Homo sapiens: one gene and its partner. The protein of the gene in region 2 purifies or fractionates together with the protein of the main gene of each other region. This does not show direct contact. Each region holds a gene or a part of one and is shown on either strand. Other genes may lie near its edges.

Region 1 (3,500 bases), on a different chromosome or scaffold from region 2:
TCGACCTCCTGGGTTCGAGGGATCCTCCCACCTCAGCCTCCCAGGTGCTAGGATTACAGGCATAAGCCACCATGCTCAACCCATATGCTATATTTATTAAGCCTCATATCTCAATAGAAATATGAGCTTTAGGCTGGGCGTGGTGGCTAACGCCTGTAATCCCAACACTTTGGGAGGCCAAGGAGGGTGGATCACCTGAGGTCAGGAGTTCAAGACCAGCCTGGCCAAAATGGTGAAACCCCATCTCTATTAAAAATACAAAATATTAGCTGGGTGTGGTGGTGGGCGCCTGTAATCTCAGCTACTTGGGAGGCTGAGGCAGAAGAACTGCTTGAACCAGAGAGGCAGAGGTTGCAGTAAGCCGAGATCATGCCACTGCACTCCAGCTGGGTGACAGAGTGAGACTGTCTCAAAACAAAAAAATATGAGCTTCAGATTGCCTGAAACTGCCTCAAATGTAGGTCAGGCGACTCAAATCCTCACTTTTAATGAAAAAAGTAGATCTCTTCCCTCATCCTTTCCAATTCCTCTCCCCTTGCCCATGTATATTCTAAACTATAGACTCTACAAATATTTTATTGACAATTCGTATTACTATATATATATATATATAAACACATATTGACAATACATATTACATAGAACCTCTGGTCCCACTGTTGATACCTTAGCCTAGGACTAGATACTTAACCCTTCATACCTGAAATATTAAACAGCGTAAGTGGTCATCTTTTTCTGTGGGCTCTCCCTTCTAAAATCTTAACAGCAGTGGGTCAGATGACTAAGTTTCTATAAAACAGGCTTTCTTCATGAATCACTTAGTTGCTAAGAAATGTTAAGTGTTTCCCAGTATTCGCAGAGTTGATACAAACTTGGCCTGGCACTCCTGGTCCTTGATAATCCGGGCCTGCTTGCCTCTCTAACCAACCCATCCATTGAGCCATGCTGAAATGCCAAATGCTACACTCATTCTGCATCCACAATAACCCTTGAGATGCCCCCCTGCCAGGCATGCATTTCCTGTTTCTCTCTCCCTACCGAAATCCTTCACAAGTCAAGAACTACTTCTTTTCCACATGTTCCACAAGCAGTCCATATTGCACCCTTCTTCCTCTGACCCCTGTTGTCTCTTGTACCCTTATCCCCTCTGGTATGAATTAAAACATTTTTGCTACTGACAGACTTGCCCTATCCCATCTATGTTCACTGTTCCACAAAAGAAATCTCTGTTCCTTTTCAATAGGAACAATTTCTTATTTCTTTGCCACCCTCAAAACACTTAGCTTGGTATGGTCATATATCAGTTAACAACACGGATACATTTTTTTTTCTGAGACAGAGTCTCTCTCTGTCACCCAGACTGGCGTGCAGTGGCGCGATCTCAGCTCACTGCAACCTCGGCCTCCCAGGTTCAAGTGATTCTCCTGCCTCAGTCTCCCAAGTAGCTGGGACTACAGGCGCGCATCACCACGCCCAGCTGACTTTTGTATTTTTTTAGTAGAGACGGGATTTCACCACGTTGGCCAGGATGGTCTCGATCTCCTGACCTCGTGATCTACCTGCCTCAGCTTCCCAAAGTGCTGGGATTACAGGTGTGAGCCACCGCGCCCGGCTAACAGGGGTACATTTTAAGAAATGTGCTGTTAGGAAATTTGATTGTTTTGTGGGCATCATAGAATATACTTATGCAAACCGAGATGGTATAGCCTACAACATACCTAAGCCATGTGGTATAGCTATTATACTCTTAAGGGACCCCCATCATAAATGCAGTTCCTCATTGACTGAGACACTGTCATGCATCACGACTGTATTGACTGCTAGTAAGAACTCACACACAAGTTGAAGACCATAATTTCATTCTTACCTTCAATCTCATCCCTTCTGCATGGGTATCTTTTTGCCTTTCAGATCCTGCTAAATCCACCAGGTTGAGTAGGGAGGTCCGTATATTCACAATCTCATTACTTTTCTCCATTGACTCTATTGTAATTGTAAAGACGGCATGAGACCTAGACGATTCTCTGTTCATTGATGTTGATGCCACACGTCTATTCCTCCATCCTCCAGACAACACCTATGCAAAAGGAAAACATATTAAAAGAAATGAGAGGACCAGTTACAGTGGCTTATGCCTGTAATCCTAGCAGTTTGGGAGGCCATGTCTGGAGGATCACTTGTGGATAGGAATTCAAGACCAGCCTGACCTACATAGTGTGAGACCTCACCTCTACAAAAAATAATAATTTGCTATGTACAGTGGCAGGAACCTGTAGTCCTAGCTACTCGGGAGGCTGAGGTGGGAAGATCTCTTGAGCCCAGGAATTCAAGGCTGCAGTGAGCCATGATTGTGCCACTGCACTCCAGCCTGAGCAGCAGGGCAAGATCCTATCTTAAAAAAAAAAAAAAAAGGAAAAGAGAAAAAAAAAGGAACAAGAATAGGTACACTTAAAATGTAAAATAAGCACTTGAGAATCACTCATTTTATTATGAAAAATACTAACATACAGCTAATTATCTACTTTCATAGGGAAAAAGAAATATATTTACATAAAGCATATTTTCTATTTAGAACAGGGGTGAGGAGTATCTATTGCCTTCCATTGTTATCTAGCTTTATAAGATAAATTATATTATCCCAAGTTCCAAATGGTACACAACAGCCACCAAAATCAGTAGGAAATTTGTAAAGGGTGGTGAGAAAGATTACTGGTCCATTAAGGAATAAGCTGAAGTTATTTTCCTTTCCTTTGTGTTCCCTTTCCACATTACAGAAACAGAACAAACAGGAAATCAGAGCGCATAGGATCTAGAACTGGTTTTGCCACGCTTTATTTGTGTTAACCTAATGTAAATCACAAAACCTCTCTGAACCCATTTCTTTACCTAGAAAATGAGAATGTTGGACAGGAAAAATCTGTAAATTATCTTTAAGCCCAAAGTTTTGTAAGCTTTTGGTCTACAAAGTATTTTTTCCCTTCTATTCCCTATGGCAAGCAGGATACATGAAAGTTCAGAATGCAGGCTCTGGAATCAGATGCATATGAGTTCAAACCATGGCTCCACTATTTACTAGGCGAGGTCTGGGGCCAGCTGAACCTTTTCAAGCCTCAGCCTTCATATTTGTAAAATGGGAATATGGGTACCTATCCCATAGAACAGAACATATAAGTTTTAGGTGCATATGAATCATCTACAGATGTTGTTAAAATTCAGATTCAGATTCAGTGTGAGGTGGGGCCTGAGATTTTGCATTTCTAACAAGCTCTCAGGTGATGCTGATGTTCTGAGGACCACATTTTGGGTAGGAGGGTAACAGTATATATAGGGTAAAATGGGGAAATTAGTGTCTTTATCTCAAAGGGCATATTGAAAATTAAGTAAAATAATGTATACAAAAGAAGTTAGCACAGTGCTTGGCACCTTCACTCAATAAATCATAGCTGTTGGCAGGGCACGGTGGCTCACGCCTGTAATTCCAGCACTTTGGGAGGCCCAGG
Region 2 (3,500 bases):
GTTTTTGGTTTCGTTTTTTTGTTTTGTTCGGGAGACAGGATCTGGCTCTGTCACCCAGGCTGGAGTGCAGTGATGCAATCATGGCTCACTGCAGCCTCAACCTCCCTAGCTCAAGCCATCCTCCCACCTCCATCTCCCGAGTAGCTCGGACTACAGGTGCGCGCCACCATGCTCAGCTAATTTTTGTATTTTTTGTAGAGATGGGGTTTCATCATGTTGCCCTGACTGATCTCGAACTCCTGAGATCAAGCAATCCACCAAGTGTTTGGATTGCAGGTGTGAGTCACTGCACCCTGCCATCAATTTTTAAAAAGTAACCCAACAGAATAATAAAAGTAATGAGCAGGCAATTTATAGAAAAAGAAAACAGAATGATGAAGAAACATATGAAAAAATGCTCATCTTCACTGGCAATGAAGTAGAAATAGAAAATGAAATGAAAACAATGTCTTACTTCATATTCATCAGATAGGCATAAATTAGAAAATCTGACAATGCTCAGCATTAGTGAGGATGTGGAACAACAGGAATTTCACTGCTGACAGGAGGGAAATCAACAAACACTTGGAAGGGCAACTTTGCAAGAGCTACACTTTTTTTTTTTTTTTGAGATGGAGTCTCACTCTGTTGCCCCAGCTGGAGTGCAGTGGCACAATCTCCGCCTCCCAGGTTCAAGTGATTCTTCTACCTCAGCCTCCCGAGTAGCTGAGATGACAGGCATTCACCACCACACTCAGCTAAGTTTTGTATTTTCAGTAGAGACACGTTTCATCATGTTGGCCAGGCTGGTCTCAAACTCCTGACCTCAGAAGATTTGTCCACCTCAGCCTCCCAAAGTGCTGGGATTACAGGCATGAGCCACCACACCAGGCCAAGAGCTACACTTCTACTGAAGAATTCCCCTTCAAGACGACAACCTTTAAGAATTTTGCACTCCACTGGGCACAGTGGCTCATATCTGTAATCCCAGCACTTTGGGAGGCCAAGACGGGCGGATCACGAGGTCAGGAGTTCGAGACCAGCCTGGCCAACATGTGAAACCCCGTCTCTACTAAAAATACAAAAAAAAATTACCTGGGCATGGTAGCAGGCGTCTGTAATCCCAGCTACTTGGGAGGCTGAGGCAGGAAAATCATTTGAACCTGGGAGATGGAGGTTGCAGCGAGCTGAGATCGCGCCACTGCACTCCAGCCTGGGTGACAGGGCAAGACTCCGTCTCAAAAAAAAAAAAAAAAGAATCTTGCACCCATAAACACAAGAAAACATAGATAAAAACTTTCAATACAGAGCTGTCTGTAGGTGCAAGAAATTGAAAACAAAGTCATGTTCGTCAATAGGACAACAGATAATGCATATTCATATAGTAGTATAGTATCACGCAGCCATTAAAATTTATAACCTAGAGCTACAAACATCAACATGAATAACTCTCACGAAGAAATGCTGAATGGGCCAGGCACGGTGGCTCACGCCTGTAATCCCAGCACTTTGGGAGGCCAAGGCAGGCAGATCACCTAAGGTCAGGAGTTCGAAACTGGCATGGCCAACATGGCGAAATCCCATCTCTGCTAAAAAATGCAAAATTAGCCGAGCATGGTGGTGCGCACCTGTAACCCCAGCTACTCGGGAGGCTGAGGCACAAGAATTGCTTGAACCTGGGAAGCAGAGGTTGCAGTGAGCTGAGATTACACCACTGCACTCCAGCCTGGGCGACAGAGCAAGACTCCGTCTCAAAAAAGAAGAAATGCTGGATGACAAAAGTTGCAGAATGACAAAAAGACACCATTTTTAAGAAGTTTAAAAACATCCAAACAATATATAGTATATTTGTAAGTGTAGTATTATACTATTAAAGAGAATTTCTATCTATTTATAGAGTGTTTAACTCGGAGAAAGGAGGAAGAATGGGATCAGGTAGCTGCTAAAAATACTAAAGTATTTCACTGCATCTTGAATGTTCCTTTCTTAAAAAAAAAGAATCAAGTATATCAAAATATTAGCACTTGACATAATTGCCTGGCAGGAATGGGAGTTCATATTTTCTATTTTATGCTGAAAATATTTCATAGTTTAAAAAGCTACAAAATATATTAGAAAAAAAACTGGCTGTTAAGTCTACTATTCTTATTCAAAACCAAAAAACTTTTTAAAAAAATTTTTACTTTTACAAAGATTTTAACTTATTGTACAAAGAGTGGCCTAGTTAAGTAAATGTTATAAATTTGTGTGTATGTTATGAATTTATATTATTCTTATGCTATCAATATCTATTTTTATATTGGGATTTCTTATAAAATTTCACTGGAGAAAAGGACTGCATGACTGCATTTCACTGGAGAAAGTCCCAAGCTACTTCCTGGTCAACTTCTTCTAACACAGCAAAAGTCAGAAACACAGCAATACACACATTAAAATGTCACTTGGAAATGTATTCTCTTAAAAGCTAACAATTCAAACCACTGCGTCCACAGAGTTTTGTAGAGGTAGAATTTGAGCTCAGCTTTGTGGGACACAAGCGTATCTTTAAAGGAAATACCAAGGTTGAAAAGAGCAAACATTTAGCAATGAATGGTAAATAGCACAGAGGCAGAAAACTGGCAAGAAAGATTGCCTGGCTTGAGTAAAGGGAAAAAAGATATGCAAACAAGAACCGGAGTTAAGGCTTAGAACAGACAAGTCATGACTTGGAAATCAATGAATAAGGAAATGACATCTTCTCTGTTAACACTAACCACTGTGGCCCCGTCCCCCATGTTTCACTTTCCCCTTGGAATTCTACAAGAATGGCTACTCCAACCAGGCTCTACCTCAAGATCCCTGTACCCCTCTAACACTTGAGGCCCAGCTGGGGAGAAGAGGTGGGACCTAAGGATATTTTCTTTTTTCCCCTCAGAACACATCAAAGAAATCTTATTAAACAAAACAAAAAAATGAATCTAGATAAAATGTTTAAAGAGTTCTAACACTACCAAATCTAGTATATCCTTCAGGGCTTGTAGGTTCTGATGCCAAGAAAAGACAGGAATTTGCCAGAGTTCCCTACTTCCTAGCCTTTGGCCTGCTTCCATTTGACAAGTCACATATCATCATCAATTCATGAGTGCCTTCCTAAGACATCTTGACCCATCCTTTTCTCAGCCCCTGAGAAAAGGATTCCTTCCTCATATGACTGTCAGAAAGACTGCTCACCCTCCTGCAAGACTCTTCACCTACCAAAAGAGATTAATCTTTAAAGGCCTTTAATCATAAAATGACCATATCATACATTAGCAAAAGGTGGTTACTTCCTGTTGGGAAAGTGCTATCAGAGAAGGGGGGGAGGAGGCTGGGCACAGTGGCTCACGCCTGTAATCTCAACACTTTGGGAGGCCGAGGCGGGCAGATCACTTGAGGGCAGGAGTTCAAGACCAGCCTGGCCAACATGGTGAAACCTCCATCTCTATTAAAAATACAAAAAATTAGCCAGGTGTGGTGGTGCGCACCTGTAGTCCTAGCTACTC

Evidence for each region.
Region 1: the proteins of STAM2 (region 2) and KIF15 fractionate together in Homo sapiens (co-fractionation; one large-scale study listed by BioGRID). This does not show direct contact.

Annotation. Positions count from the first base shown.
Region 1 is NC_000003.12:44,792,794-44,796,293, reverse strand, and holds part of KIF15 (kinesin-like protein KIF15), read right to left. Parts: intron 2,078-3,500; coding exon 1,868-2,077; intron 1-1,867. UniProt on the Homo sapiens protein: Plus-end directed kinesin-like motor enzyme involved in mitotic spindle assembly.
Region 2 is NC_000002.12:152,169,264-152,172,763, forward strand, and holds part of STAM2 (signal transducing adapter molecule 2), read right to left. Parts: intron 1-3,500.